Linked DNA regions of Homo sapiens: region 2 is linked to region 1. Evidence: fine-mapped expression QTL. A gene starts in region 1. The other region holds a variant in brackets. All regions are shown on one strand. Distances are from middle to middle.

Region 1 (15,397 bases):
AACACATTTTTGAAACAAAACAACTCCCCTATTCCCCCCTCTTCTGCAGCTCCTGGTAATCACCATCCTATTTTCTTTCAATGTATTTATTTTACTTTATTTATTTATTTATTTTTTGAGATGGAGTTTCACTCTTGCTGCCCATGCTGGAGTGCAATGGCATGATCTCAGCTCAACGCAACCTCTGCCTCCCAGGTTCAAGTGATTCTCCCACCTCAGCCTCCCGAGTAACTGGTATTACAGGCATGCACCACCATGCCTGGCTAATTTTGTATTTTTAGTAGAGACGGGGTTTCTCCATGTTGGTCAGACTGGTCTCGAACTCCTGACCTCAGGTGATCTGCCTGCTTCGGCCTCTCAAAGTGCTAGGATTATAGGCGTGAGCCACTGTGCCCCACCTATTTATTTATTTTTATTTTATTTATTTATTTATTTATTTATTTATTTGAGACAGAGTCTTGCTCTGTTGCCCAGGCTGGAGTGCAGTGGCACCGTGTCAGCTCACTGCAACCTCCGCCTTCCGGGTTTAACCGATTCTCCTGCTTCAGCCTCCTGAGCAGCTGGGACTACAGGCGTGTGCCACCTTGTCCAGCTAATTTTTGTATTTTTAGTAGAGACGGGGTTTCACCATATTGGCCACGCTGGTCTCGAACTCCTGACCTTGTGATCCACCCGCCTCGGCCTCCCAAAGTGCTGGGATTACAAGCGTGAGCCACCGTGCCTGGCCACCTATTTATTTTTTTGAGAGGAAGTCTCATTGTGTTGCCTAGGCTGTGGTGTAGCAACGTGATCTCTGTTCACTGTAACCTCTGCCTCCTGGCTTCAAGGGATTCTCCTGCCTCAGCCTCCCAAGTAGCTGGGATTACAGGCATGTGTCACCACGCCTGGCTAATTTTTGTATTTTTAGTAGAGACAGGGTTTCACCATGTTGGCCAGGATGTACTCGAACTCCTGACCTCAGGTGATCAGCCCGCCTCGGCCTCCTAAAGTGCTGGGATTACAGGCGTGAGCTACCGTGTCTGGCCTGTTTTTTATTTTTTTTGAGACAGGGTCTCGCTCTGTCACCCAGGCTGGAGTGTTCTGGTGAGATCTCAGCTCACCACAACCTCTGCCTCCCAGGTTCAAGCAATTATTGTGCCTCAGCCTCCCGAGTAGCTGGGATTACAGGCATGCACCATCATGCCCGGCTGACTTTTGTATTTTTAGTAGAGACGGAGTTTTGCCATGTTGGCCAGGCTGATTTCGAACTCCTGACCTCAGGTGATCTGCCCGCCTTGGCCTCCCAAAGTACTGGGATTACAGGTGTGAACCACCATGCCTGGCCCACTATCCTCTCCTTCCTTCCTTCCTTCCTTCCTTCCTTCCTTCCTTCCTTCCTTCCTTCCTTCCTTCTTTCCTTCCTTCCTTCTTTCCTTCCTCCCTCCCTCCCTCCTTTCTCTCTCTCTCTTTCTCTCTCTCTTTCTTTCTTTCTGTTGCTCTGTCTCCAGGCTGGAGTGCAGTGGCACAATCTTGGCTCACTGCAACCTCCACCTCCTGGGTTCCAGTGATTCTCCTGCCTCAGCCTCCCGAGTAGCTGGGACTACAGGCGCACACCACCAAGTCCAGCTAGTTTTTGTATTTTTAGTAGAGATGGGGTTTCACCATGTTGGCCAGGATGATCTCGATCTCTTGACCTCGTGATCGGCCTGCCTCAGCCTCCCAAAGTGCTGAGATCACACGTATGAGCCACTGCACCCGGCCACTATCTTATTTTCTGTCTCTGTGAATGTGACTACTCTAAGTACGTCATGTAAGTGGAATCCTACAGTATTTGTCCTCTTATGACAGGATTATTTCACTTAGCATAGTGTCCTCAAGGGTCATCCAGGTCATAGCATGCAACAGGATTTTTTTCCTTCCTGACCCCCCTTTTTTTGACTTGGAGTCTTGCTCTGTCACTCAGACTATAGTGCAGTGGCTATCACAGCCACTCCTGGACTCAAGTGATCCTCCCACCTCAGCCTCCCAAGTAGCTAGGACTACAGGTGTGTGCCACCGTGCTCGGCTAATTTTTTTTTAAGTTTTGGAGAGAGAGGGTGGTCTCAGTGGCTCCCGCCTGTAATCACAGCACTTTGGGAGGCTGAGGCAGTAGGGGGCGGGGGTGGGGATCACTTGAGGGTAGGAGTTCGAGACCAGCCTGGGCAACAGGGTGAAAACCTGTGTCTACTAAAAATATAAAAATTAGCTGGGCATGGTTGTGCGTGCCTGTAATCCCAGCTACTCGGAGGCTGAGGTAGGAGAATCACTTGAACCTGGGAGGCAGAATTTGCAGTGAGCTGACATTGCGCCACTGCACTCCAGTCTGGGCAACAGAGTGAGACTTCCTTTAAAAAAAAAAAGTTTTGGGAGAGATGGGGGTCTTACTGTGTTGCCCAGGCTGGCCTGGAACTCCTGGGCTCAGGCAATCCTCCTGCTTCAGCCTCTGGGATTACAGGCATGGGATTACAGTGCTGGGATTACAGGCATGAGCCACTGTACCTGGCCAGCACTTTATTTTATTGTTATTTATTATTATTACTTTGTTTTTTCATAACATTGATGTTTTGAAGGTTATAGGCGACCTCCTTTGTAGAGTGTCCCTCATTTTGGCTTTGTCTCATGTTTCTTATTATTAGATTTAAGTTATGCATTTTGGCAGGAAAACCAAAGAAATGGTATGTGTCTCCCTCTTTGCTTCAGACCAGAGGCAACTAAGGTCAATTTGTCCTGTTAATGGTGATATTAACTTGTATCATCTGGTTAACGTGATGTTTGCCAATTTTCTCCATTAATTTTTTTTTGTTATAATAAGTAATCTAGGGGAAGCTACTTTGAGACTAAATAAATATCCTGTTCTTTATCAAATCAGATTTTCACCCAATAACTTAATAGTTTCAGTCTCTGTTGACAATCCTTGCTGGAATCTCGTGATCTTTTGTTTTTGTTTTTGTTTTTGTTTTTGAGACTGGGTTTCACTTTGTTGCCCAGGCTGGACTGCAGTGGCACAATCATGGCTCACTGCAACCTCCACCTCCTGGGCTAAACCAATCCTCCTATCTCAGTTTCCCGAGTAGCTTGGACCACAGACATGCATCACCACACCCAGCTGATTTTGTTTATTTTTTGTAGAGACAAAATTTCACTTTGTTGCCCTGGCTGGTCTTGAACTTTTGGGTTTAAGTAATCCTCCCACCTTGGCCTCCCAAAGTGCTGGGATTACAGGCTTGAGCCACCGTACCCAGCTGGAATCTCATGTTTAATATTCCAGACCTGTCACAAACACTAAGAGGTGTAGCCTCTTAGACTGTACAAGGCTAACGGCAGCCAGAGAGCTCTCACTGGAAGTGAATTAATCTCTAGGATGGCCTAGAGGGATGAGGGGACCCACAGAGCTCAATGATTTGGTGAAAAACTGAGGCTGGAGGCTGATGGGAATTTATGCCCCCATCCCACACATATGTAATAAAGACCCACTTTGTGCCAGGCACTGTTTTAGGCCGTGAGGCACAGTAGTGAAAAAACGAGATCAAATCTCAGCCCTTGTTGTGCCGACACTGATGTGGGAGGATTCAAACTACAAACAAGAAAAATACATGGTATGTTTAAGGCCGGGTGCAGTGGCTCACGCCTATAATCCCAGCACTTTGGGAGGCCAAGGCGGGCAGATCACTTGAGGTCAGGAGTTTGAGACCAGCCTGGGCAACATGGTGAAACTCCGTCTCTACTAAAAGTACAAAAATTAGCTGGGCATGGTGGCAGGTTCCTATAATCCCAGCTACTTGGGAGGCTGAGGTGGGAGAATGGCTTGAACCCAGGAGATGGAGGTTGCAGTGACCTGAGATCGTGCCACTGCACTCCAGCCTTGCTGACTGGGGTTTTGCTATGTCGCCCAGGCTGGTTTCGAACTCCTAGGCTCAAGCAGTCCTCCCTCCTCGGCCTCCCAAAGGGCTGGGATTACAGGCGTGGGCCACCGCACCTGGCCTACAGTATGCTTCATAGAAATATGAAAAGAATGAGAGCAAGGTTGAGATAGAAAGTAACAGGGCATCCCTCCTGAGTAAAACAATCCTGCCCCCTCACGCTCTCGTCTACCCTCCCGTGGGTCTCCCTGCTTCTGTCGTCTGCCAGAAACTGGCTGAGCCAAGTGCACTTGCAGACGCCATCTGTTCTCCCTGGGAGTGGGGCCGGTGCCAGCGCCAGCATCTGGACTCTTGGCAAGGAGCCCTGGAGCCCTGGAGCGAGGGAACTCCGGCCCCACAAAGGCCAGGGAATCCTCCAGTCTGGTGAGACGGAGGGCTTCTGGGAAGGGAGGCCTATACAAGGCTCCATGAAGGAGGTGGAAGCTTGCAAGACGATGATAGTCTTGTAATCAGTCCGATGGAGATGGATGTAAATAATAATATTAATAAACACCATCAAATGTGTTCAGAGTGCTTTCTTTGCCAGGCTTTGGATAAATGTTGGATATCTGTTCTTTTTATTTTTTATTTTTCTATTTCCTAGGCAGCACCTAAACCAAAATAGGTTCAGAGAGGCTCCCAATGTTGGACATTTGTTGTTGCAGCAACTCTAAGTACTCTACATATGTTATCACATAAGAGGCAAGGAGCATTATCCCCATTTTGTAGGTGAAGAAATAGGGGTTCAGAGAGGTGAAGGCATTGTCTAGAGGCCACACACTCAGTGACTTAAAGAGCCTGGAAAGGGGCCAGGAATGGTGGCTCACACCTGTAATCCCAGCACTTTGGGAGGCTGAGGCGGGTGGGTCACCTGAGGTCGGGAGTTCAAGACCAGCCTGACTCATATGGAGAAACCCCATCTCTACCAAAAATACAAAATTAGCCAGGTGTGATGGCGCATTCCTGTAATCCTAACTACTCGGGAGGCTGAGGCAGGAGAATCGCTTGAACCTGGGAGGCGGAGGTTGCGGTGAGCCGAGATCACGCCATTGCCCTCCAGCCTGGGCAACAAGAGTGAAACTCCATCTCAAACAAACAAACAAAGAGCCTGGAAAGGAAACCAGGTCTATGTGGGTCCAAATGCTGACTCATGAACATCACTGTACCACGTGACAATCAGAGCATCACCCCCTACTGGACCCCACTCCTCAGCCTTCTTTCCCTAGAAACTCCTAACCCACCTGCCTCTGCTTCCTCCTCACCCATTGGCTTAGCAAGGGCCACAGGAACACAGCCCGGGGTTACAATATGCTGGGCTTGGTACCAGCTGTTTACTGTGGCCAAGTGAGCATGCAAGTGAGCCCGTTTATTTTCTTTTCTTTTTTTTTTTTTTTTTTTTTTTTTGAGACGGAGTCTTGCTGTTTCCCAGGCTGGAGTGCAGTGGCGCGATCTCGGCTCACTGCAAGCTCCGCCTCCCGGGTCCACGCCATTCTCCTGCCTCAGCCTCCCAAGTAGCTGGGACTACAAGCGCCCGCCACCAAGCCCGGCTAATTTTTTGTATTTTTAGTAGAGACAGGGTTTCACCGTGTCAGCCAGGATGGTCTGGATCTCCTGACCTCGTGATCCGCCCGCCTCGGCCTCCCAAAGTGTTGGGATTACAGGCGTGAGCCACTGCGCCCGGCCCGTGAGCCCGTTTCTTTATCTGCAAAACAGGGATTAAAAACAAGCCAACACCCCTTCAGCACTCCTCCGCAAAAAAACACCCCAAAACAAAATAGGCCAGGCGCGGTGACTCACACCTGTAATCCCACCGCTTTGGGAGGCCGAGGCTGCAGTGAACCCAGGAGTCTGAGGCTGAAGCGAGCAATGATTGCGCCACTGCCTTCCAGCCTGGGCGATCAGAGCAAGACCCCGTCTTTTAAAAAATAATAATAAAAAAAAAATCTGCCGGGCGCGGTGGCTCACGCCTGTAATCCTAACACTTTGGGAGGCTGAGGCGGGCAGATCACCTGAGGTCAGGAGTTCAAGACCAACCTGACCAACACAGCGAAATCTCATCTACTAAAAATACAAAAATTAGCTGGGCGTGGTGGCTTGCCCCTGTAATCCCAGCTACTCGGGAGGCTGAGGCAGGAGAATCGCTTGAACCCGGGAAGCGGAGGTTGCGGTGAGCCGAGATCACTCCACTGCACTCTAGCCTGGGCGACAGAGCAAGACTCCGTCTCAAAAACAAAACAAAACAAACAAAAAAACCAAAGTAAAATAGCAGCGACAACAACAACAACAACAAGAAAAACCCGGAGCTGAGAGGAAGAATGAATGCGATGATGAATGTAAAGCGTTTAACACAGGGCTTGGGTACAGTCTGCCCTCAATGAACCAATGATGTACCCCTAGGCAATTTACCTAACCTCGGCTTGCCAGTTTCCTCCCGCGTGAAACAGGACAATAAACGATTATGCCTCTTAGGGTTGTGCTGAGGAATACATGTGTATGTAAGTTTATTTGCAAAGCACTTAGAACAGGGCGCACGGTCCTTGTTGCTGTTATTATTATTGGCTATTATTGCGCAAAGGGGAAGGGAGGCGGGGCCAAGCCAGGAAGGCCCTGGAGAATCCGGGGTGCCCCCTCCTCCGGCAGAGCTTGGGCCTGGGCTCACGAGGAAGGGGCTGCAGTTCTCCAAGGATTCCCGCCTGCTCCCAGACCCCCGGGAGTCGTAGGAACCCGTTCCTGGACGCTGACGTCGGCTTTCAGGGATCCCTCGCCGGACGCCGCGGAGGGACAGAGCCTGGGAAGCCGTCGCCCCGCCCCGTCCCCGCCCCCGCGCGCAGCGGGCCCGGGGCGCTGAGACCCGCGTAGAGCAAAGCGCAAGGTCCCAGCGCCCCTTGGATCCTCGGTGGCAGGGTCCGGGCAAGTGTCATTGCGAGGGTTCAGGAAGCCCCGGCCTGTGATCGTGAGCGGTGAGTGAGGGACGTAGGTGGGTGGGGGTCACAGTCCCTTCCCTGGGTCCTGGAGTTGGGGATGAGAGGGCAAAGCTTTGGCGAGGAAATCGGCTCAGTCAAGGTTTGGAATGAGCAGGCAGGAGGCTTGGGGACCTTCCAGGGGGATCGTAGGACGAGAAGAAGAATATTCTTTCTGGTTGTGTTGCGTGTGTACGTGTATGTGTGTGCTGGGGTTGAGGGTGTTTATGGGGGCGAGGTGTGCAAAGGATTCTGGAGAGCTGGTGCATGTGTGGGAGTTGTGTGGAGTCATAGGTGTGTGGGTGGAGTAGGGCAGGGGTGCCTGGGCCTGATGAGTGGGGCAGGCATGCCAGAGGTCATGAGAATAGGAGAGAGTGCCGGGGTGCATGTGTGCGTGTGTGCACAGGTGTCTGTGGTTTGTGATGCAGTGGGGAGTAGGGTTGTGCACGGAGTCAATTGGGATAAATGTGTAAGAAGGTTGGGGACCTGAAAGGGGTGTTTTCTGGGAGCTGATGTTTTGGGGCAAATATTCAAGGAGTCCTTTGGGAGATGAATGTGTGGAGGTGGAGGCTGGGCTTGCCTAGATGGGGCTGTGTGGCAGGGGACTTCGGGGGGCAGGTCTAGGGGACAGAGGATGGGGAATGTAGACTAGAGTGCAGTTCCAGGCAGCACTGGGGGTAGGGGATGGGTGTGTGTGTGACTGGGAGGGGTGCCTGGGCCTGGATAGGTGGTCACGCGGTATGAACCTGGGATGGATATTGGGGGTGTTTGTGGGGCAGGTAAGTGTGTAAGGCATGGTGCAACAGGTGCTGCAACTTATTGGGGTAAGTGTGATGGGTATGTGGCTTTTGCCTGAGAGAAATGCCCAGAATTTGGCTGGGTGCGGTGGCTCACGCCTGTAATCCCAGCACTTTGGGAGGCCAAGGCTGGTGGATCCCCTAAGGTCAGGAGTTCGGGACCAGCCTGGTTAACACAGTGAAACCCTATCTTTACTAAAAATACAAAAAAAAAAATTAGCCGGGCATGGTGGTGGGCGCCTGTAATCCCAGCTACTCGGGAGGCTGAGGCAGAATGGTTTGAACCCGGGAGGTGGAGGCTGCAGTGTGCTGAGATCATGCCACTGCACTCTAGCGGATCTGCAGTGGTGGATCTGCCTGGGCAACAGATGGAGACTTTGTCTCAAAAAAAAAAAAAAAAAAGAGAGAGAGAGAGAAATGCCCAAAATTGAATGTCCAGACCCCTGAGTTCTCTTCATAACCTGAGGCCAATCTTTTTTTCTCTCTGGGCCTCAGCTTCTGTATCTGTAAAATGGGTCTGAGGACCACTGCACTAACTAGTCTCTGCCTGAGTCTCTCTAAAGCAAGGGGTCAGAGGTTGAGTGAAGTGAGACTTTTACAACTTGTCTTTTTCTTCCCCCTACCCCTAGGAAACCCCTCCTGGAGTTTCCCCAAAGCCATGGACAGCCCTAGTCTTCGTGAGCTTCAACAGCCTCTGCTGGAGGGCACAGAATGTGAGACCCCTGCCCAGAAGCCTGGCAGGCATGAGCTGGGGTCCCCCTTAAGAGAGATAGCCTTTGCCGAGTCCCTGAGGGGTTTGCAGTTCCTGTCACCGCCTCTTCCCTCCGTGAGCGCTGGCCTGGGGGAACCAAGGCCCCCTGATGTTGAGGTAGGAAACAGCAGGCCTTAGTGGAAGGCACGGGAGGGGGCTGGGGTGAGCCCCACTAAGGCCAGCATCTGGCAGGTTGACAGCTGTGCCGATCTGCCTTAGGCCTGGAGTCTCACTTCCCAGCTGTGTGTGGGCTTCTGAGATTTCCAGTTACGGTTCTTCTTGTTTTATGTCTCTCATCTTTGTTGCCTGGCTTTTGGCTCTGTCTTCCCTCTGATCTCAGACTCCGCTGGTTGGTGTCTTCAGAGTGCATGCACCTCTGGCTTTTGTCCACCCTGCTGTCTCCCTCTTTGTGTGTGTGTGTGAGAGAGAGAGAGAGAGAGAGAGAGAGAGACAGGGTCTCGCTCTGTTGCCCAGGCTGGAGTGCAGTGGAGCGATCATAGTTTACTGCAACCTTGACCTCCCGGGCTTAAGCAATCCTCCCACCTCAGCCTCCTGAGTAGCTGGGACCACAGGCATGTGCCACCATGCCTGGCTAATTTTTTGGTGTTTTTTGTAGAGAAGAGGTTTTGTCATGTTGCCCAGGCTGGTCTCAAACTCCTGAGCTCAAGCAATCTGCCTGTCTTGGCCTCCCAAAGTGCTAGGATTAAAGGTGTGAGCCACCATGCCCAGCCTTCCTTTTTTTTTTTTTTTTTTTTTTTTAAGTTACTGTTGTCACTTTTTATAATTTCTCATTCCAGGCCAGGCACAGTGGCTCACACTGGTAATCCCAGCACTTTGAGAAGGCGAGGCAGGAGGACTGCCTCGCCCAGGAGTTCTAGGCTAGCCTGGGCAACTTAGTGAGACTCCATCTTTATTTTTATTTAATTTTTCATTTTGTCCTCCGAAAATTAGAAAGACCCCATCTTAAAAAAAAAAAAAAAAATTAGCCAGGTGTGATGGCGTGTTCCTGTAGTACCAGCTACTTGGGAGGCTGAGGTGGGAGGATCGCTTGAGCCCAGGCTGCAATGAGCTGTGATCATACCACCTTACTCCAGCCTGGACAACAGAGCAAGACAGACAGAAAGAAAGAAAAAGAGAGGGAGAGGGGGGAGAGAGAGAGAGAGAGAAAGAGAGAGGGAGGGAGGGAGGAAGGAAAGAAAGAAAAGAGAGAGAGAAAGAGAGAAAGAAGGAAGGAAGAAAGAAGGAATGAAGGAAACAAGGAAAGGAAGGAGGGAAGGAAGGAAGGAGAAAGCAGAAAGAAAGGAAGGCAGGCAGGCAACAATCATGATGAACTCTTACGGTTTCTGTTGGTCAGGAATTTGGGACTTAGTTGCATGGTTCTGCCTCTGGATCTTTCTTGAGGTTGCATTCAGCTGGTGGGTGGAACTAGAACAGTCAGGGGCTGGCTGGGCACTTTTCTCTCTCTTCATGGTGTCTTAGGGCTTCCTTTTTTTTTTTTTTTTTTTTTTTGAGATGGAGTTTCACCCTTGTTGCCCAGGCTGGAGTACAATGGTGCAATCTCAGCTCACTGCAACCTCCGCCTCCTGGGTTCAAGCAAATTCCCCTGCCTCAGCCTCCTGAGTAGCTGGATTTACAGGCATGTGTCACCATGCCCAGCTAATTTTGTATTTTTAGTAGAGACAGGGTTTCACTATGTTGGTCAGGTTGGTCTCAAACTCCTGACCTCAGGTGATCCACCCACCTCAGCCTCCCAGAGTGCCAGATTACAGGCGTGAGCCACCGTGCCCAGCCGAGTCTTAGGGCTTCTATGTGGTCTCTCCATGTTTGCTGCCTTGGGATTCCTTACAGCATAACGGCTTCAGGGCAGTCAGGCAGCTTATGTACCTCCAGCCTACAGCATGAATATTGCAGCAAAGCAGAAGCTGCCTCACCTTTTCTGATTTCGCTTTGGAAGTCACGTAACATGACTTCCACCACATTCTATTAATTACAAGTGAGTCATGAGCCTGCTCAAATTCAAGGGGAGGGGACACAGAACTCATCCCTTGATGGGAAGGATATCAAAGTCACATGGTAAGAAAAGCATGTGGGGCCGGGCGCTGTGGCTCATGCCTGTAATCCCAGCACTTTGGGAGGCCAAGACAAGTTAATTGCTTGAGGTCAGGAGTTCAAGACCAGCCTGACCAATGTAGGGAAAGCCCGTCTCTACTAAAAATACAAAAATTAGGCCAGGCGCGGTGGCTCACGCCTGTAATCCCAGCACTTTGGGAGGCTGAGACGGGCGGATCACGAGGTCAGGAGTTCGAGACCAGCCTGGCCAACATGGTGAAACCCAGTTTCTACTAAAGAAAAAATACAAAAATTAGCCAGGTGTAGTGGTGCACACCTGTAATCCCAGCTATTCGGGAGGCTGAGGCAGGAGAATCACTTAAACCTGGGAGGCGGAGGTTGCAGTGAGCCGAGATCACGCCATTGCACTCCAGCCTGGGCAACAGAGTGAAACTCTGTCTCAAAAAAAAAAAAAAAAAAAAAAATTAGCTGGCCGTGGTGGTGGGTGCCTGTAATCCCCGCTTTTGGGAGGCTGAGGCAGGAGAATTGCTTGAACTTGGGAGATGGAGGTTGCAGTGAGCTGAGATTGAGCCACTGCCCTCCAGCCTGGGCAAGACTCTGTCTCAAAAAAAAAAAAAAAAAAAAAAAAAGCTTAAAAATCTAAACTCTAGAGTTTTCAGCAGGCAGGTTTGCCCTAATCATTTAGGCCACTGGAGCATTTTATAATCTCCATCTTTTATTTATTTATTTATTAGTGACAGGGTCTTCTTGCTCCGTTGCTCAGGCTGGGGGGCAGACATGTGATCATAGCTCACTGGAGTCTCAAACTGCTGGGCTCAAGCCATCCTCCTGCCTCAGCCTCCCAAAGTAGCTGAGACTACAGGCACAAGACACCATGCCTAGCTAATTTTTTTTTTTTTTTTTTTTGAGATGGAGTCTCACTCTGTCGCCCAGGCTGGAGGGCAGTAGCGCAATCTCGGCTCACTGCAAGCTCTGCCTCCCGGGTTCATGCCATTCTTCTGCCTCAGCCTCCAGAGTAGCTGGGACTACAGGTGTGTGCCACCACACCCGGCTAATTTTGTTTTTGTATTTTTAGTAGAGACGAGGTTTCACTGTGTTAGCCAGGACGGTCTCGATCTCCTGACCTCATGATCCGCCTGCCTTGGCCTCCCAAAGTGCTGGGCTTACAGGCGTGAGCCACTGAGCCTGGCCCATGCCTAGCTAATTTTAAATTTTTTTTTGTAGAGATGGGGTCTTGCTGTATTGCCCAGGCTGGTCTCAAACTCCTGGCTTCAAATGATCCTCCCGCCTTGGCCTCCCTAAGTGTTGGGATGACAGGTGTGAGCCACTGTGCCCGGCCAATAATCTCCATCTTTTTGCAGGTTCCTTGTTTCAGTGGTGTTTGTCCCTGCTCAGGGGCTTTTCTTTTTTTGAGATGGAGTCTCACTCTATTGCCCAGGCTGGAGTGCTGTGGCTCGATCTCAGCTCACTGCAACCTCCACATCCTGGGTTCAAGTGATTCTCCTGCCTCAACCTCCTAAGTAGCTGGGATTACAGGGGCATACCACCACGCCTGGCTAATTTTTGTATTTTTAGTGGAGATGAGGTTTCACCATGTTGGCCAGGCTGGTCTCCCAACTCTCGACCTCAGGTGATCCACCCACCTCGGTCTCCCAAAGTGCTGGGATTACAGGTGCAAGCTACCACGCCCGGCCATGCGGGGGCTTTTCACTCAGAGATTGTAAGCAATTGTAGCGTCCATGATTGGATCCGTCAACCCCTTGAAAATGAACTGAAAACTCTGGGTGTGGGTGGGGCTCTTCTCTGGAGACCTGATCCACAACTTCCCTTCAAAGGGCTCCAGGATACAAATGTCAAAAGCCCATCTCTGGCCAGGTGTGGTGGCTCATGCCTGTAATCCTGGCACTTTGGGAGGCCAAGACGGGTGGATCACCTGAGGTCAGGAGTTCAAGACCATCCTGGCCAACATGGTGAAACCCCATCTCTACTAAAAATACAAAATTAGCCAGGTGTGATGGCGTGTGCCTGTAATCCCAGCTACTCGGGAAGCTGAGGCAGGAGAATCATTTGAACCCGGGAGGCAGTGAGCCGAGACTGTGCCATTGTACCCCAGCCTGGGTGACAGAGCAAAACTCCGTCTCAAACAAACACCGAAAGCCCATCTCTGAACACTTTTTTCTCTTTGTATCTCTGGGGAAGCCCTAGGGGCAGGTATTGGCCTTTGAGGGCTATGGAGAGCAGAGCAATGGGGCAGGAAAGGTGGATGGAGATGCCCACCTGGGCACTTTCCTGTCCGTAGGACATGTCATCCAGTGACAGTGACTCGGACTGGGATGGAGGCAGCCGTCTTTCACCATTTCTACCCCACGACCACCTCGGCTTGGCTGTCTTCTCCATGCTGTGTTGTTTCTGGCCCGTTGGCATCGCTGCCTTCTGTCTAGCCCAGAAGGTCAGTCTGTGTGTGGGACTTGGAGGGGACTGGGCATAAAAGAGAAAAATGCACCACAAAAACAAAGAGCCATATACCTGAGGCGGGAAGGTGGAAGGTAGCCCAGAGAACCTGAACTCAAATCCTGAGTCTGCCACTCTCTGCAAGATTTTTTTTGAGTCTCACTTTGTCGCCCAGGCTGGAGTGCAGTGGTACAATCTCGGCTCACTGCAATCTCTGCCTCTTGGGTTCAAGTGATTCTCCTGCCCCAGCCTCCTGAGTAGCTGGGATTAGAGGCGCGCGCTACCATGCCTGGCTAATTTTTGAATTTTTAATAAAGACGGGGTTTCACCACGTTGGCCACGCTGGTCTCGAACTCCTGACCTCAAGTGATCCTCCCATCTTGGCCTCCCAAAGTGCTGGGATTACAGGCGTGAGCCACGGTGCCCAGCTCTCTGCAAGATTTTGGGCAAGTCACTTAACTTCCCTGTGCCTCACTTTCCTCATCTGTAAAGTGGGAATAATTGCTACCTCTGGGTCAATGTGAGAATCAAATGAGTTAGAATAGTGGCATATACCATTTTAATGTTTTTATTTATTTTTTAAAATTTATTATTATTATTATTTTTTACCATTTTAATGTTTTTATTAACCACTCAGCATCCCCAGTGCCTGACCTATAGTAGGTGCTACGTATCTGCTTTTGGAATACATGCATGAATGAATGAATGGGTATGTTGGGTGGGGGAGGGACCAGGGGAAGGGTCTGGGACTGAGGGGATGCCTGGGTCACTGCTGCCCACTGCCTCTACAGACCAACAAGGCTTGGGCCAAGGGGGACATCCAGGGGGCAGGGGCCGCCTCCCGCCGTGCCTTCCTGCTGGGGGTCCTCGCCGTCGGGCTGGGCGTGTGCACGTATGCGGCTGCCCTGGTGACCCTGGCTGCCTACCTTGCCTCCCGAGACCCGCCCTAGTTGCCCCTACAGCCCTCACTGTGAACCCTGAGGCCGGCAGCCCAGCAAATCTGTGGGCAGAGAGTGGAGAATCTTGGTGGATGAGGCTGCGGCGGCGGCAGGAGCATCTAGAAACGGGAGCGAGCTGGACTGGAACCCTTCCCCTTCCTGGCCACCGCTCTTCGGGCGGCAGCAACCTGAGATTAAACACCAGACACCCTTGCAGCCAAACCAGAGTCTGTTCGCGTGTGTGGGAGGATGGAAGGGGGTGGGGGTGCTTGAGACCAACAGGGGACTGACTGGTCAGGGTGACGGGCTGTGGTGGGCATCCCCAGGGTGCTTGCTCCCTGAGACCTGAGCTGGAAAAGGGGGAAGAGGATTTTCGGGTTTTTTTTGTTTTTTGAGAGATGGTCTCCCTGTTGCCCATGCTGGAGTGCTGTGGCACAATCATGGCTCACTGCAGCCTTGAACTCCTGGGCTCAAGCAATCATCCTGATTGAGCCCAGGAGCCTCCCAAGTAGCCGGGACTACGGGCACCTGCCACCACACCCAGCTAATTAAAAAAATTTTTTTGTAAAGACAAGGTATCACTATATTGCCCAGGCTGGTCTGAAACTCCTGGGCTCAACTGATCTTCCCGCCTCGGTCTCCCAAAGAGCTGAGATTACAGGCATGAGCGACCATGCCTGGTGGTTTCTAAACAGCAGGATGTTCTCATCCCAATATGGGTGGTTAGCAGAGAACTGGAGAGAGCTGAGTTTCAAGTCCTTACTCCTCTACCTGTTAGCTGTGTAAGCTTGGCCCAAGTGACTTCTCACTTTTTCTCCTCTGCAAAATGGGACTTTCTGCACACCTCAGGCTGTAGTGAGGATTAAATGCATCATATGTGGAAATGACTGTCTGCTGTTGCTGTCTCCCTCTGAGCTTTTTTTTCTTTTCTTTTCTTTTTTTTGAGATAGGATCTCCCTCTGTCAACCCAGACTGGAGTGCAGTGGCCCGATCTTGGTTCACTGCAGCCTCGACCTTCCAGGCTCAAGTGATCCTCCCACCTCAGCCTCCCAAGGAGCTGGGACCACAGGCGTGTGCCACAATGCCTGGCTAATTTTTTGTATTTTTTTTTTTTTTTTTGAGATGGAGTCTCGCTCTGTTGCCAGGCTGGAGTGCAATGGTGCAATCTCAACTCACTGCAGCCTCTGCCTTCCAGGTTCAAGAGATTCTCCTGCCTCAGCCTCCTGAGTAGCTGGGATTTCAGGTGCGCAGCACTGCGCCTGGCTGATTTTTGTATTTTTAGTAGAGACAGGTTTTCACCATGTTGGTCAGGTTGGTCTCGAACTCCTGACGTCAGGTGATCCACCCACCTCAGCCTCCCAAAGTGCTGGGATTACAGGCGTGAGCCACCAAGCCTGGTCTTTATTGCTTGATAATGTCTAGCCCCTCTTAGTGTGCTTAGTGAGCACTTCCTATGTGCCTCTGCTAAGTGCTTGTGACAGATGTGTTTTCCCTGTCCAGGTGCCAACACCTC
Region 2 (9,531 bases), 42 kb after region 1:
GACCTGAGTGCGGTGCAAGATTAGAGGGGCCCGGCAAGCCCAGATGAGTGAAAGGAAGGAAGGGTCAAAGACCAGGAATGAAGAAAATCATTGAGCAGGAATGAGTGCCTGGGAGCGAAGGAGTGAGCCCAGGGAGCAGTGAGTGGGGTCTTCCAGGGAGCTTGTTGGTGTGGGGCCCTGCATGGGGACTACCCTCAGAGTGTCAGCGAGCACTGATAGGGCCAGGAAGGCATATCTTAACCCTTTGTCTTAGATGCTTGGGGCAAGTTGCTTAACTGCCCTGTGCCTCTGTTTCCTCATTCGTAAGGGGGATGGTAGCCCTTCCCAAGACAGCTGTTGAGGGCAGTCTTGGGGCAGTTGGCAAAGTGCCCTCAGCACAGAGTAAGCGCTCAGGGCCAGGGGTTGGTGTCATGATCGGGGACTCGCCCTGGGACAGCCCTTCAGCAGGGCCAGACCACGTGGCTGTCCAGAGCCCCCATGGACCAGCATGGCTTGCAGCCTGCTCCTGGACTGTCTACTGCTCACAGCTGGACCAGGCCCTTGGCCCCACATGCTCTAGGAGGGCAAACGCCCTGTGGTGTTTGTCTAAGGTCTAGTGTCATCCGTGCGGAAAAAGATTTCCAGACACCAGGCAGCAAGCTGGGCCCCCGCCAGCTGTGCTGAGCACTGCACCTGTTTTTGCTGAAGGGTTCTCTTGTGAGGGCACCAGGCAGGACCGAGCAAGCCTCATGGGAATCATGGGAGCCGCTGAGCTCTCCACATGGGAGAGCTGGCCGCCTCTGCAAGAATGACTGTCCAGCACTGAGGGTCAGCAGAAGTGTCTGGGCAGCTGCAAATGGGACTCATGCAGAGGCAGCATGGTGCAGGGTAAGGAGTTGAGTCACATCCACTCTAGACTTCACTTGGCAGGCCACTCACCTTGGTGACGCTGTCTGTCGTCTGTGAAGTGAGAAGAGTGGTGTTCATCATGATAGGTAGTGCCTCCCTGGGCTCTTGACACCAGAGTGCTGTTCTTTTTTTCTTCTCCTTTTTTTTTTTTGAGATGGAATCTCGCTCTGTTGCCCAGGCTGGAGTGCAGTGGCGCGATCTCGGCTCACTGCAAGCTCCACCTCCTGGGTTCACGCCATTCTCCTGCTTCAGCCTCCCGAGTAGCTGGGACTACAGGCGCCCACCACCATGCCTGGCTAATTTTTTGTATTTTTAGTAGAGGCGGGTTTCACCATGTTAGCCAGGATGGTCTTGATCTCCTGACCTTGCGATCCGCCCTCCTCCACCTCCTAAAGTGCTGGGATTACAGGCGTGAGCCACCATGCCTGGCCTTTTTTTTTTTTTTTGAGGTGGAGTCTCACTCTGTCGCCCAGGCTGGAGTACGGTGGCGCAGTCTTGGCTCATTGCAACTTCTGCCTTCCAGGTTCAGGTGATTCTCCTGCCTCAGACTCCGGAGTAGCTGGAATTAAAGGCATGCACCACCATGCCTGGCTAATTTTTGTATTTTTAGTAGAGATGGGGTTTCACCACGTTGGTCAGGCTGGTTTCAAACTCCTGACCTCAAGTGATTCGTTTGCCTTGGCCTCCCAAAGTGCTGGGGATTACAGGCATGAGCCACCGCGCCGGGCCAGCCAAGGTGCTGTTATATGTGCTCTTTAGCCTCGGAGACTGTCATTTCCCCTCACTGCACTGCAGAGCGAGGGCACACCGGGTGAGGTTAGGGCAGGCCCCAGTGGTGTTGCCTCATTGAGGCACCTCCCCCATCCATGTGAGGCAGGAGAGGCAAGCATTACCATCAACTCTAAAAGCCAGGTAAGAACCTGAGTCAACAAAGGTGAGGTCATGGGCCCAGGCCACATTCTCCTAAGGAGTGGAGCCGAGTCTTTTTATGGCAGTCTGACCCAGAGACAGCTCTCGCTGTTTCCCACCCTTGGCTGTCTTCCCAGGGCTATATGTGGAGTATCAGTGGTGGCACTGGCAGGGAGTGGCGCCCGGTGAAAAGGAGTGTTAAGAGGAAGCACGTGCCAGGTGTGGTGGCTCACGCCTGTAATCCCAGCACTTCGGGAGGCTGAGGCGGGAGGATTGCTTGAGCCCAGGAGTTTGATACCAGCCTGGGCAACATGGCGAGACCCCCATCTCTAAAAAATTAAAAAATTAGCCAGGCGTGGTGGTGCACACCTGTAGTCCCAGCTACTCAGGAAGCTGAGTGGGAGGATTGCTTGAGCCCAGAGGTTCAAGACTGCAGTGAGCTATGATTCCACCACCGAACTCCAGTTTGGGTGACAGAGTAAGATCCTGTCTCTGAGACCAACAAGAAAAGAGGTAGCATGTGTCAAGCAAGAGCAGCAGTTCCCACTGGACCTGGAGTTTCCTGGTGCAAATCAGCCTGTGAGTCTGTATTTTCTTTTTTCTTCAAGACGGGGTCTTACTCTGTCACCCAGGTTGAAGTGCAGTGGCATGATCTCGGCTCACTGCAACCTCTGCCTCTTAGGATCAAGTGATCCTCCCACCTCAGCCCCCTGAATAGCTGGGACCACAGGTGCACGCCACCACACCTGGCTAATTTTTTTTTTGATTTTTGGTAGAGACGGGGTTTCGCTGTGTTGCCCAGGCTGGTCTCAAACTCCTGAGCTCAAGCAGTCCACCTGCCTCACCCTTCCAAAGTGCTGGGATTACAGGCACGAGCCACTGAGCCTGACAAGTTTGTACTTTTAGCACGTTCCCCTGCCCCTGCCCAGTCCTTCTCACATGGGTGGACCTAGTACCACATTCTGAGAAAGCCTGATTCCAAGGTCCTGTATCAGTCCCTTGGACCTTCTTTGACCCTCTACAAGACCTTTCTTTCCCTCCTTAACCAGAGCAACTCCTGTTTCTATCTGTTACATATGCAGCACAGCCACATCTTGTGTGGATTTGTATTATGTCCATTCAAAAGCATGTGTCAGAAAATACCAGTAAACCTGTATTAAAGTTGGATGTTGAAGTAGTGCTAACCACCCTCAACTCTAACTAAAATATCAACAAGTGGGCTGGGCGTGGTGGCTCACACCTGTAATTGCAGCACTTTGGGAGGCTGAGGTGGGTGGATCACCTGAGGTCGGGAGTTTGAGACCAGCCTGACCAACATGGAGAAACCCCGTCTCTCCTGAAAATGCAAAAATTAGCTGGATGTGGTGGCACATGCCTGTAATCCCAGCTACTCAGGAGGCTGAGGCAGGAGAATCGCTTGAACCCAGGAGGCAGAGGTTGCAGTGAGCCAAGATTGCGCCATTGCATTCTGGGCAACAAGAGCAAAACTCCGTCTCAAAAAAAAAAAAAGAAAGAAAATTAGGTAGATCTAGTGGTGCACACCTGGAATCCCAGCTATCTGGGAGGCTGAGGCATAAGAATTGCTTGAACCTGGAAGGTGGAGGTTGCAGTGAGCTCAGATTGCGCCACTGCACTCCAGCCTGGGTGGCCAAGCCAGACTCTGTCTCAAAAAAAAAAAAAAAAAAAAAAAAAGGTAACTGCTGTGTGTAATGTGATCTCCATTAAATTTGTATCTAAAGAGCGGGTTCTGCGGTAAAGAAAGGATTTGGAAAGCACTGTACTAGAGAGCTCCCTCTGAATAATGTTCCCGGTCTGAGTGCTTGCAGCATTGATCCACAGCGCTGCCCCTAAAGTGTTGGTGTGAAGGTTGTCCCACTCTTCAGGCGGGGCAAAGAGCTTGTCTGAGGGCAATCACAAACCCCCTTCTGTCTTCTAACTTCGGAGGAAGGGCCCCCTTAACCTGGAGCGGTTCCCTTTGATGGGGAGGTGGGTGTTCACCAGAGGTTTTGTTTGAAGAAAAGGTTTTACTGCCATACATGGGTTAGAGTACTTCTGTAGTCCAGAAGTTGTAAATTAGTGGTCTATGCTGTTATTTGGTTCATAATGATGATTTTTTTTTTTTTTCGAGACAGGGTCTTGCTTTGTAGCCCAGATTGGAGTGCAGTGGCACGATCTCAGCTGCCTGCAGCCTTGAACTTCTGGGCTGAAGCAATCCTCTGCCTCAGCCTCCCAAGTAGCTGGAACCACAGGCACACATCACCATGCCTGGCTAATGTTTTGATTTTTTTTTTTTTTTGTAGAAGCGAGGCCTCACCATGTTGCTCAGGCTGGTCTCCAACTCCTGGGCTCAAGCGATCCTCCAACGTCAGCCTCTCAAAGTGCTGGGATTACAGGCATGAACCACCATGCCTGGCCATAGTAATGATTTATGGTTAGAATATTTCTTAAAGGTAATTGAATTAGTTGAAAGCACTTAAATACCAGACAATATCTCACTAAGAGAAAGAAAGAAAAAGGCTAGATTTCTGCTTTCTTTTGAAAAATCAGATTGGCCTTGCTGGGCAGAGTCAGTCAGTCTGAACATCAGTCTTCCTCTTAAAACAAGCCTGAGCTTTCCTGTCTGCCTGCCAGCATGCTGCAGGTCACCCACAGGGCTGAACTGTCCCCCTGTACTGCCCACTCGGCTAACCATTGCCTCCTCCCCTCCTAGGTGTGCTGATGTATCGGGACTACCCCCTGGAACTATTCATGGCCCAGTGCTATGGCAACATCAGTGACTTGGGCAAGGGGCGCCAGATGCCTGTCCACTACGGCTGCAAGGAACGCCACTTCGTCACTATCTCCTCTCCACTGGCCACGCAGAT[C/T]CCTCAGGGTGAGGATGCATGCCCTGTACCTTGCACATGTGCAGACCAATGTCACACCCCTGTCCAGGCCTCAGCTCTTTTGCCTGCCTTCTGGGTGGAATTCTGGGTTGGTGACACCACTAGAGCCCTGGTCTGTGCTCCAGACTTCTTCTTCTTATTTTTTTCTTTTTTGAGACGGAGTCTTGCACTGTTGCCCAGGCTAGAGTGCAGTGGTGCTATCGCAGCTCACTGCAGCCTCCTTCTCCCAGCTTCAAGCAATTCTCCTGCCTCAGCCTCCCGATTAGCTGAGACTACAGGTGTGCACCACCACGCCCAGCTAATTTTTGTATTTTTAATAGAGACAGGGTTTCACCGTGTTGGCCAGGCTGGTCTCAAACTCCCGGCCTCAGGTGATCCACCCGCCTCAGCCTCTCAAAGTGCTGGGATTACAGGCGTTTAAGCCATTGTGCCCAGCCCACTTTTTTTTTTTTTTTTTTTTTTTTTTTTTTTTTGGTCTGAGACGGGGTTTCACTCTCGTCAGCCAGGTTGGAGTGCAATGGTGCAATCTCGGCTCACTGTAACCTCCACCTCCCAGGCTCAAGTGATTCTCCTGCCTTAGCCTCCTGAGTAGCTGGGATTATGGGCATATGCCATTGTGCTTGGCTAAATTTTTGTATTTTTTGTAGAGATAAGGTTTCACCATTTTGGCCAGGCTGGTCTTGAACCTGAGTTCAAGTGATCTGCCCACCTTGGCCTCTCAAAGTGCTGGGATTACAGATGTGAGCCACTGCACCTGGCCTGTGTTCCAGACTTTGAATGCACCTCTTGTCTGGGACCCTTCAGAAGAGGGCTCTGTTGCTGTCCCCACCCCATTCAGGGGCCTGAAGCCTGTGTGACCACACTCTGGATTTCCCAACCACATGCCTACTGCATTTGTCTGCTCACAAACATAGCCAACGTGTGCACCAGGTTCCACTGTGCCAATGCTTCACGTTCATCATCTAATAAGGACCCTCATTGTGGCCATGGGGACAGAGGTTATTATTTGCTCTTGTTCCTGTTTTCAAGAGCAGGATGCCCGTGTTTTGTGTGTGTGTGAGAGACAGCAAGTGAATGGGAAAAAAAAAAGTGCAGGAGCCTGGCCAACATGGCAAAGCCCTGTCCCTACTAAACATACAAAAATTAGCTTGGCATGGTGGTGCACACCTGTAATCCTAGCTACTCAGGAGGCTGAAGCAGGAGGATTGCTTGAACCTGGGAGGCAGAGTTTGCAGTGAGCTGAGATCGTGCCATTGCACTCTAGCCAAAGTGAGATCCTGTCTCAAAAAAAAAAAAAAGGAAATTGAAGTCAAAGAGGGAAGTCACTCGCTAACGGTCATGTGGCACAGAGGGAGAGGAGCAGGGACTCAAGTCATTGACTGTGTACCTCCAGAGCCTGGGTTCTTGGCCCTGACCTTTGTCTGCCTCAGTCCTCAGAGTCAAGTAAGCTTCCCCAAAGCTTACCGTAGGTGCCCTGAAGTCCCTTCCCTTATAAGAGCTTTTTTGGGAAGCAAACCCACTGGGTGCCAGGCCTGCACCCTCATAGTGTGGAGAACAAGGAATCGGAGCCCCTTCCTGTCCTCCGGGGCCTGTAGCCTGATCTAGGGTTGGTCTGGGCCCTGGCTTCTTTGCCCTAGGGCAGCTGAGATGCATGAGTTTGTGTCTCTCCAGGCCTCAGCACTGTGCCCAGCACAGCAGGAGGCTCCACACCCCTTAGCTCATAGTGTTCTTTTGTTGAGGAACAAGAAGCAGTTTGAGCCTCTTAGGTGGGAGGTGGGCAGGGAAGCTTTCTCAGAGGAGGGGGCATTTAGGGGGCATTTGAGCTAAAGGTAATAGGGTTTCCACAAGGCTGGGGCGTGGCCCTAACCTTCCCTCTGGGTCCCTGCTAAGTCACTTCAAATACACGAAGTTCCTGCCATGTGCCGGTGCCACTCCAAGTGCAGGGAACAAAAGCAACGCAAACCTCAGCCCTCCTGGTGCTGCCATTGTGGTGGGGGAGACGGACAGTAACAGAGATGGAGAGGGAACTCCTGGAGTATATGAGGGTGGGGGTCCTGTAGGGAGCAGCCAAGCCAGCCGGGTGTGGTGCACTGTAGGGGTGGCTGGGGTCCGTCACTGGAGTGACACTGAAGTATGGACCAGAGGATGTGAGGGGGGAGCTGTGTGGTGTCTTGAGGCAGGTGTGAGCCTGGCGTGTTTGAGGAGCTGGGAGGAGCCCAGAGGGGCAGGTGTGGAGTGAGCAGGTGTGGAGTGAGCGGGTGTAGGGTGAGCAGGTGTGGGGTGGTTGGAGGTAAAGTCCAGGAGGTGGTGGGTGGGGGTGCAGATGGTGCAGGTTGGGTGGGGCCTCAAGGCCTTTGCCTGTTGCAGGGATGTCGACTTTTACTCAAAGTGGGACAGGAGCCGTGGGTGGGGAGGAGTCTGCTCTTCCTTGGCCTGGCTCACCTCTTCATGGAATCCGCGGGCTGCCCTGTGGATAAGGGATTGGGCAGTGTGTGAAGGGCTAGTAAGGAGGCTGCTCAGTAACTTGGGCTTGACCAGGGTGGTGCAGAGGAGGAGGTAAGAGGGGTTAGGTTCTGAAGGTGGAGTAGATGTGGAGAATGGCGGGAAGTTTGGCTTGGAGATGATACTGGACTCTTCAGCCTGAGCAGTTGGAAGGGTGGAGTTGCTTTCAGCTGAGCAAGAGGAGACCTGGGTGGGCAGATGCTGGGGGGCATCAGGAGCTGAGGTGTTTCCTTTCCCCTTGAAGCCTGGTGACTGCTGGCCTGAGCCACGCTTGAGCCGTGGGTCATGTGAGTGTGAATGAGTGTGAGTGCATGTGAGTCTCCGCCCCTGCTCACCACCCTCTCATCCCCTGCAGCGGTGGGGGCGGCGTACGCAGCCAAGCGGGCCAATGCCAACAGGGTCGTCATCTGTTACTTCGGCGAGGGGGCAGCCAGTGAGGGGGACGCCCATGCCGGCTTCAACTTCGCTGCCACACTTGAGTGCCCCATCATCTTCTTCTGCCGGAACAATGGCTACGCCATCTCCACGCCCACCTCTGAGCAGTATCGCGGCGATGGCATTGGTATGGGCTCTGCTGGCTGCTCCCCACCCCGCTGGGATCATCTCCTTCCCTCCCCAATCCTGCCACCTTCCTGCCACCCCTACCCTCCTTCCTGGTTCTCGTCCTGTGTCCTGTGGCGTCTGGCACTTGGTCAGCCACAGGAGTTGAGGTCCTGAGCACTCAGCCTTGCTCTCTGTCCTCTCCCTGCTCGTCCCCTTGGCCTCGTGCATGTTCCTTATCTCAGCCCTGGCCTGACCTGCCTTCTCTGTGTCCCCACAGCAGCACGAGGCCCCGGGTATGGCATCATGTCAATCCGCGTGGATGGTAATGATGTGTTTGCCGTATACAACGCCACAAAGGAGGCCCGACGGCGGGCTGTGGCAGAGAACCAGCCCTTCCTCATCGAGGCCATGACCTACAGGTGCCTGCCGCTCCCCCCGTCAGCACCCCCACAGCACTGACAGCCACCGTAGCATCTTCCTCATATCGATCACTGTCTCCAAAACATGGCCTTATCACCTGATGTTGCATCTCCCCCTTGCCTTTATTCCGTTTCCACTCCTCCTTCCCTAGTTCATCCCCCATCCTCCCTCCTGACCCCCACTCCAGGGAGCCCACACTGACCTGGGGCCCCTTGCCCCTGTGCAGGATCGGGCACCACAGCACCAGTGACGACAGTTCAGCGTACCGCTCGGTGGATGAGGTCAATTACTGGGATAAACAGGACCACCCCATCTCCCGGCTGCGGCACTATCTGCTGAGCCAAGGCTGGTGGGATGAGGAGCAGGAGAAGGCCTGGAGGAAGCAGTCCCGCAGGAAGGTGAGGGTGCCCCGCCCGGGAGGGTGTGCTGGGGGCTGCTGCGGCCTGCAGAGCTTGGGAAGGATTTGTGGAACACCGAACTGGGAGGCTCAGGGATAACCCCAGTGATGTCTCAGATGTGGCCTGTGGAGCCAGGCTGCTGGGGCCATGTGTGTCCTGGCTCTGTGTCCTTGGCATGTTGCCCTCCACTTCCTTGTCTTTGAAAGGGGATGCTGGTGGTGCCCATTTCAGAAACTGGTTTGAGACTGGGCATGGTGGCTCACACCTGTAATCCCAGCACTTTGGGAGGCCGAGGTGGCAGATCACTTGAGGTCAGGAGCTTGAGAACAGCCTGGCCAAACATGGTCAAGCCCTGTCTCTACTAAAAATACAAAAATTAGGGCTGGGCGCAGTGGCTCACGCCTGTAATCCCAGCACTTTGGGAGGCCAAGGCGGACAGATCACCTGAGGTCGGGAGTTTGAGACCAGCCTGGCCAACATGGTGAAACCTCGTCTCTAATAAAAATACAAAAATTAGCCGGGCATGGTGCCGGGTGCCTGTAATCCCAGCTACTTGGGAGGCCGAGGCAGGAGAATTGCTTGAACCTGGGAGGTAGAGGTTGCAGTGAGCTGAGATCGTACCATTGCACTCCAGCCTGGGCAACGAGAGCAAGACTCCATCTCAAAAAAAAAAATTAGCCAGGCGTGGTGGTGCGTGCCTGTAGTCCCAGCTACTCAGGAAGGTGAGGCAGAAGAATCGCTTGAACCCGGGAGGTGGAACTTGCAGTGATTGGAGATGGCGCCACTGCACTCCAGCCTGGGCAACAGAGCAAGACTATCTCTTAAAAAAAAAAAAAAGCTGGTTTGAGGATTAGGTGGCAAACCGTGGTGGAGTGTACATGCCCTGCCCAGAGTCAGTGTGCCACCCTCCCTGGCCCGGTCATTAGGACCCAGGGCCCGTGCAGCCCAGTGGTGAGGGCAGCACCCGGCATAGGGCAGCACCGTGTGTC

Evidence for each region. PIP is the estimated chance that this variant, and not a neighbour inherited with it, causes the effect.
Region 2: its variant is fine-mapped to the expression of TMEM91 in whole blood (TOPMed, PIP above 0.99).

The regions. Positions count from the first base shown.
Region 1 is chr19:41,369,978-41,385,374 of GRCh38, forward strand. TMEM91 (transmembrane protein 91) reads left to right here and starts at 6,556. Exons shown (of 4, transcript NM_001098821.2): 1 at 6,556-6,877; 2 at 8,304-8,542; 3 at 12,795-12,944; 4 at 13,738-14,106. The coding sequence starts at 8,333. The coding sequence ends at 13,896. RefSeq lists silencers at 6,672-6,801, 9,876-10,049 and an enhancer at 13,953-14,452.
Region 2 is chr19:41,414,628-41,424,158 of GRCh38, forward strand. BCKDHA (branched chain keto acid dehydrogenase E1 subunit alpha) reads left to right here. Exons shown (of 9, transcript NM_000709.4): 5 at 4,508-4,669; 6 at 7,537-7,743; 7 at 8,002-8,143; 8 at 8,371-8,542. Among named protein-coding and RNA genes, the nearest start is that of B3GNT8, 8.0 kb to the right of the region's middle. The variant C/T (reference allele first, on the strand shown) is at 4,662.